2 linked regions of the Homo sapiens genome follow. The protein of the gene in region 1 interacts with the protein of each later gene in a biochemical or structural test. Each region holds a gene or a part of one and is shown on either strand. Other genes may lie near its edges. The genes, in order: ITGA4 and LGALS8.

Region 1 (3,925 bases):
ACATTCTAAAGAATACAGATATCTTTTATTCCTCATGTAAAGAAACTGCCTCTCTATTCAGAATAAATTCAGTGGTAGCTTGAAGCTATAAAATAGGGATTGAGGCTACAGTCTAGAAATAAAACACTAAAAACAATACATTGGTAATAAAGATAATTTAGGATTCTTAGGTTTGTGGGCTATGCACTATTTTGTATGAAGAAGTTTCAAGAGTGTGTGTAAATATATATAAGCCATCTTCTGTAGAAGAGTGTGTGTGTGTGTGTGTGTGTGTGTGTGTGTGTGTGAATCTTCTGTATAAAATAGCTTCAGTTGTCCTGTTTCAAATGTGGGTGACTCTAATGTTTCAAAAATGCTTAGCTCAGTACTGACACATAATACATTCAAAAAATAGTGGTTCTTCTTTATTGTTTACTTAAATCTATTATCTGTATGTTATCTGTAACAAGCAGGCTGAGGTTAATAGGGACAATTGATAAACTGAACCAAAAGTTTAAAAATTAAAAGGTAATACATTAAAAGGTAGAAGTTGAAATGAAACACAATGAGAAATTTTTGTTGGCTGAAGAAAAAAATGTTATAATGATTAAAGATCGATCTGTGATTGCCATGTCAGTAAGGTATCTTCTTTCCTTTGGAATAGCTTTACTTGCTATCAAGAACCTGAAGGTGTAGGGTCTTCAAATGGTGCCCATCTCCCACACAATTAAAAATATCCACATGGACTAGTCTTTGAGTCTCTGTAGAATTTCAGATCAGTGGTTGATTCAGATAGACTCCTCCCCTCAAAAGAGAAGGTCCATATCTCGCCTACCCTACCCTCTGTGGACAAGGTGTCCCATATGGTATATTCATGCCATAAGCAGAAGTGAGCCTGCCTGTTTATCTAGAATGCCCAGGGTGAGAGACGTTAGGCATGAGATACCCCTTTTAGTCAAGCAAGTTGACTGCAGAGCCAGCACCAAGAGAGTTGCCTGGATAGTACCGCAAGGTGCTTTTCTTCCTGCATATATATTGTTGGCCTCCTTTTACCTCCCTGACTCCCCAAGAGACATCTCTTCTCTCACTTCTTTTGTACCAGAGGAAAGTGGTCTCTCTGCCAGGAGGGTCTGGGCCCAGACTTGCTCGTGAAGACTATATCTGAGGAGACCCAGGTGATTTCTACATGTCCACTTTCCACCCGGGCACTCTGCATCATCAGGCTTGTTTAAAGGAAACTTTAATCACAGCTGGTTCCTAAATTAAGGTGTCACAAATAATGACTCAATTAATATAGTTAAGCATAGTCCATCCATGGACTATCAATATTCAAATAGAACATAATAAAACATAGAAATGATTATCAAATTACACTAAAAAGATGGTCTTTATTTGGTTATTCAAATATGTTTCCAGATCTTTCATTACTTTGGAGTTACCACTGAAAGCATTATACACACACTAACTCTCATTTGGGTAATAGTCTAAAGTTATACAATTACACTATCCAGTATAGTATCCACTAACCACAGGTGGCTTTGAACACATAAAATGTGGCTAGTCAGCGATGAGAGGGCTGTAATGTAAATTACATACTGGCTTTTGAATACTTAGTATAAGAAAACTCATTAATTTTTATGATATATATTGAAACAAACACTTTAAAATTATTGATTACATAATATTTTGGATTTATTAGGCGAAATAAAATTTTAGGTTAAATAAAATTAATTTTATTTTTACTTTTTTCATGTGGCTATTATAAAATTTAAAATTTCCAATGGGCTTGTATTATATTTCTATTGGACAGCACTGCTGTAGAGAAACATTAAGTTCTCTGTGTAAAAATAACGCTATCTCTTTAGGAGATGCTTTCCTGATATTTATGCATAAATGAGTAGAACTTTCACTTTCTTTTCTAGACTAAGTGTTCTATAGTTACTGGGCCTTCAAGCTGCCTGCCTGTCCCTCTCTTACAGGAAAGACCCATCTCAAGTTAGTCACCATTACCCATATTTAGATTTCTTTCTGGAAATTTTATTACCTTAGCCAGCCTCCTGGTTCATATTATATAACCTATTTGAAAGAATTTAATTAGCATTGCATTATTAAACTAATGATTACCTAATCCTCACTTCTACTTGATTCATAGGAGTTATTAGCTTAACATTAAATAGCAAATATCTCACTGTTGAAACTTCAAATATGTTTTTCTTGATAACTTTTTACTTTTTCATTTGCAATGTGCTTTAAATTGTAGCTTATGAAGCTGAGATTGCAGATTGGTCATTTTGAAAAATCATCCCTGAATGAAGGCTGTTATACAATTATGTAGAAAATCAAGACAGAGAGCTTCACTAATAAACTATCAGGTTACCAGAAAGAAGTTTCCTTATTTCCAGCAGTTTCCCAAACTTTATGTCCCAAAAGGATGAGGTTTCCACCTAATTTGAGAGATGAGGCTTTCTAAATGCACTTTAGTTTTTGCCTTAAGTTTACTTGGTCACTGAGTGATATACCCAATGACTTGAAAATATATCCCCTTGGCAACAGTTCTAGGGTCAGATGCTGAAATCCGTTGCACATGTGGGTAATTTATCCATTCAGTTGTTCATTGAGGGATGCCTAAGGGCCTGAACCTGGGCATACAAAAGAAACATACTCCTTGTCCCAAAGGCTTTAAAGTTTATAAGATAGGTTATTATAGGAAAGTATGGTGAGATTTAATCTAGGTAAGACAATAAAGTGATGCATTCCTGAAGAATTGGTGTTCAAGTGGGGGAACTGAAAAATAATCAGAAGTTAGCCAGAGGAAGAGGCTATGGAAAAGTTTGCCAGAAAGAGCAAACTGTGTGTATAAAGACCCTGAAGTCTTTGAGAGCACGATGCTTTTGAAGAACTAAAAATTGTGTACAGTTGCACTATGGAGTGTGAGCTAAACTGTAGGTTAGAGAGGCAGGCAGGAATTACTTCTGATACAACTCTAAGTATGAATTTACCCTAGGATATTTAAAACTGGGGAGTGACATGATCAGATTTGTGTGTTTGACAGATTCTCTGGTTGCAGGTTAGTGAATGCTTTGGAGTAACTGGGTCAAGACTGAAGGCAATGAGGCAGTTGTAGGAAGATTTTGTTATAATTTAGACTACAGATGACAAGTGTCTGTACAAGGACACTGGCAATAGCAGTGGAGAAGAACATGGAGATTCTGAAGGTATTTAGGAGATAGCACTTGGTAATTATTGAATGAAAGAGATGAGTGAGAATGTTCCAAAGATGTTACTGAAGTTTCTAATTTGGGCTGTGACATGGATGATGATCCAATATACTGAAAAAGGGAAGAGCAGCAGGTTTTCTGGCAAAATGATGAGTTTCGTTGGCTTGAGATTCCTGTGAGACATAGAAGTAAAAATCTAGTGATCAGTTCTATGATCAGTTCCATGTATGGGTGTGGTAGACAGTAGAGAGGTCTGTACTAGCAAATCAGAGGTGAGTAATTGACGTAACCCCATTCACCTCCAAGGCTTTGATTACCATCTCTCTGGGGTAAATAGATCAAATGGCCAATGGCAAATTTCTAAGGATTCCTACAGTTCGAGAAGTGATTAGAATAGTGCTGCTCAAGTCTGGCTGTAACTTAAATTCTCATGCAGAGCTTTTAACAGTTCTGGTGGCCCATCTCAAACTACTAGAATCTCTGGGGTAAGTCTATAGGGCACCAGTAGTTTCCAGAGGTCCCCAGATGATTCCAGTATTCATCCATGCTTGAGAACCGCTGGAGAAGAAAAGAGGCTGAAAAAAAGGCTAAGAGGGTGAAGCCAAAGAGGTAGCAAGAAAAATCAGGTCAATCTGACATTAACCTGATTAAAGGAAGAGAGTGTTTTGAGAAGAGGTGAGTAGTTGGCAGTAGTAAAGGTTGCCAAGACATCAACCAGGGTGGTAAAT
Region 2 (3,925 bases), on another chromosome or scaffold:
TTGTGATCATACAAGCAGATTACAGTAGTGTTTTTAATTAACCTCATACATTTATATGATTGAAGTTTTGGTCCCCAGATTGTATGGAAATGCCTAGTGGCATTAAGGATGCAGTAGGATGTCCACTTTTAGTAGCAACCGATGTTCATTCACTACTCCATGTTAGGTGCTTTACTTGGATTATCTCACTTAAAAACCACAACATTTTATCTCTGTTTTACAAAGGAAGAAACTAGAGGCTTAAAAGATTTCAGTTATTTGACAAAGATCACAAGCTAGTGAGTGTGACATGGGGAGCTGTGACAGTTCTGGAACATAGAGTCTTAGGCCCAGGAAATAACAGTAAATGTTATTATTAAGGGAGGGGTGGTGGAGCAAGTAGATCAGTCCTTTACTGATTCATTGCTTATCTAAGCTACAAAAGTACATTCTCCTTTGTTTCTTAGCTCTTGGAGGGGGGAGGTGTGAGCTACTAAAGGGGTGGCATCCCTAGGAAGTTTGAGTTTTGGGGATTCTTATTCAGCTTCCAGTGCAAGCCTGTGGGCAAGGAATGAAGGCGGAAGGAGCGGTGTGGAGGGAGGCGGTCCGTGGCGCCTCCTGCTTTGTTAATGTGCTTCATTTCACTCTTTTGATTGAATGATTGCCGGAAAGTGCAAGGCATTAAGAATTAAACTAATGAGAACCGAGGCAGGCGGACTGACTCAGATTTTAATTTTGATTTTTTTTTTTTTTTTTTAGATGAATGTGAAGAAGTAGAACATCAGTGCCAAAAGACTATTCAGCAACTGGAAACTGTCCTGGGAGAGCCACTCCAGAGCTATTTCTAAGACTTTCTGTGGTGTTTCATACTCTACTCAGAGTTCACACTCATATTTCATATTTTTATTTTTGGGTGTTGGGTGCCATGTTACTTTTGGTGCCTTAATACACCTACTTGGATTACTTACAAATGTTTTATCACTTCTTTACAAAATCCCCACCTGGCTTGTGCTGCCACATAAGCCTCTCCTGCCTATCGTATAGAGCTGCAGAAAGAGTAAATGATACACGGTATTTTTATACAGACTGCTGTGTTTGTTTAAACATTTATTATTCTCTTCCTGATTGATGGTAATAATATTAGACTTGTTAATTTTAGCACCCAAAGCTGACGCCTCATTTGCACTGTAAGCCTTAACTCTTCTGTACAGCAGTATCTTACATACATGGTATCCATGTTGCAGATTTCACTCAAAGTTGCTCTATTTCAAGAAAATGAAGTTATTTAGCAATCAACAGAAGTACTTTTGACTGTAAAGCCTACTTTTCATTTTGGGTAGGCGAACTTCAGCCTTCGTTTCTTTGTTGTGCCCATAAAGAGAAGTGGTTCTGGAATGCTTTTTTTAACCCAGGAGTGTGACTGTCACCTTTATCCTTTGTTCTTTTGGGAAACGGGAGAGATGAAGGCAACACGCTGCTTCTAAAACAGCTCACACCTGGCTGCTCACACAGAGGGCCCAGAAACACTGGGTGGCACGAGGAAGCTCCTCCAGGATTCAGAATGAACCCAGTTCCATTGGTGGTTAACTAAGAACTACTTGTCTAAGAAAGTAAGTATCAGTAGATTTTTTTCAATGCTTTGAAGTGCCCTAATCTCTAGTACTGGGTCATGGTGAAGTTGGAAAGTGAGGGTTCAAATAAAATTAGATCTGCCCCCTTTTTAAAGGCATCTAAGAACATCCCGTAGAATGTTCGCATTGAGTTTAAAAGCCTTTGAAGCTAATATAGAAGTTTAATGCAGAAATGTGGCAAGCAAAAGGCCAACTTGCATTTTAGAGACAGAGCTTGCTAGTATAGAAGTGCATATTTCTAAGAAATGTCTCAGTAAAATTCATTAATAAATACTAATAGCTTTTTAAATTTTTTTCCTCCACGTAAAATGAAAATGAACTTAAGACTTACAAGGAATGATGTGAGTGGGCTATTTTTTTCCTAAATGCCTCACAGTCTCCAACAGCTCAGTTAAGCACTCTGATGGTCTTTATGGAGAAAAATAACTCTGGGGGATTCTCGAGTCTTCTTGCCTTCTACAGCTTTCCCTGTGGCACCCTCCACCCCCAACCAGTGTCTTTGAGCTTGGTGAGACTCTGCATACATTAATATGAAAAGCTGGAAAAGAATTAAGGGCTAGCGATTTCTACACTGAGTACTTTTAAAAAAATAAGATTGACAATGGTATTCTTTTCAATATATGGATAGAAATAATATCTAAAATCTGTTCTGAAAATATTCCTAAATCCTGGCAGAGTTCTGCCCCAGTCTAATGTGATAAAATGATCCTCACTGACTGAGCTTTTTTCCCTCCCCACTCCCAAACCTTTGAAATTTCCTGTAACAAGATCTGACCTGTAAAGATCCCATATACATGGAACTTCTGCCAACTCCCCTCAAATAATAGAAAAATCACAGAAATGGAACCATTTAACTTGCTGATACAGGTTTGATTTTAATCACGTAAAGTGGAAGAGTGCTTTGATCTCAGTTGCTAATGATGATGGACTAATCTTTAGAAGAACGGAGGCCTTGATTGGTGATTTCATGGGAACAAAACAGATTTCTGCATTACCTCTGCCTGCTTTGTGGGTCCCTTAGTTGGCGTACACTTTCTGATAGTGCCTGCCTTATGAATGCCTGAAGTCTAATCCTGACCTTACTTTGTTGCCCATAAATATCTTTCAAATTGAATGCATCTTGCCTCTTCCTGAAACTTTCTGTAGGCGTCTGTGTAGACTCTGATTTGCCCTAAGTTCAAATACACAGAAATCAGCTGCCTTGGGCTTGGCATCAAGTTAATTTCAGCACCATGTATTTGTTTTGCTTTGGTTTTTTGCCTTAATTTCTGTGCTCAGATGTCATGCCAATTACTTGGTAAAGCTTGCAGCTAATAGAGCCACATGTTTATTACGATAAAGAAAATGATGTCAGTCAACATCAGTCCTCAGTGATGGGATACGGTAGAGCACTGGTTATGACAGTGATCACTGGGGAAGGAGTTGTGTCTTCTGTAAGTTAGTGTCTTCGGGTGATTTAATATCTGCATAACTAATCCCAGAGGACCCCTTAGGAGTTGATGTAATGCCTGTAGAAAAAGCAGTGCGCAGCAGTAGCGCACAGAAGAGTCGAAGCTCAAGAGAACAGGGAACATACTGGTTTGTTTCACCAAGTATATATCCTAGCTCTTCACAGTTTTACCAAAAAAAATCTGTGCTCAATACATGTTAGCTACTGTATTATAGTAGGTACTCCATAAATACTTGTTGAATGGCATTCTTGAAGAGTCAGCCAAAGTAGGAGAGAGGGCAGAGTGGCTTTAACTGGCTATAAGTGTTGCTGCCCCCAGTTTCCCCATTCAGTGCTAGACACCACCATACTTCATGGCAAGGACTGAGAACACCCAGCAGGACCTAATGGTGCACAAGCTCATTTTAACAATATAAACAATAGAATGACAGTGAGATGCGTTTCAGCAAGGCCAGTATCACAGAAGCCATTCTGTATTTTGGTTTTTGTAGCAGCTGTGTAGGTAGGCTACCAGCTCCTTACTTCCAGTAAGTGGATGTCTCCATTAATTTCCAGCGTGTCAATACTGCTGAGCTCTTTAAATCTGTGTTTGTACTCCAGGCTGTGTACGCCATTTACTGCAACCTTGAATTCTCTAACATCACAATAAATTATCATCTGAAAGGAAAGGATACATGCCATTAGTGGTTCCCCTTAGTTTAAAATTTTGTGTTTGTTACATGCTAACGGTGTCAGAGTAAACCATTTGATTATACATAGAAAAGTTCCAGCCTGCTGCTGCTGACTTCCTTCTGACTTCCAAGACCCTAATCTAACTAAAGTGTCCCTGGTGGTGGCACTGTCTGCCTCATCCCACCCAGGGAAG

What was found.
Region 2: the proteins of ITGA4 (region 1) and LGALS8 form a complex in vitro, tested with the Homo sapiens proteins (one study listed by BioGRID).

The regions. Positions count from the first base shown.
Region 1 is NC_000002.12:181,460,317-181,464,241, forward strand, and holds part of ITGA4 (integrin alpha-4 isoform 1 preproprotein), read left to right. Parts: intron 1-3,925. UniProt on the Homo sapiens protein: Integrins alpha-4/beta-1 (VLA-4) and alpha-4/beta-7 are receptors for fibronectin. They recognize one or more domains within the alternatively spliced CS-1 and CS-5 regions of fibronectin. They are also receptors for VCAM1.
Region 2 is NC_000001.11:236,547,804-236,551,728, reverse strand, and holds part of LGALS8 (galectin-8), read right to left. Parts: exon of another isoform or gene 3,768-3,925; intron 3,718-3,767; coding exon 3,568-3,717; 3' UTR 828-3,567; coding exon of another isoform or gene 739-827; 3' UTR 1-738. Other genes in the region: HEATR1 (HEAT repeat-containing protein 1), read left to right, coding at 739-827.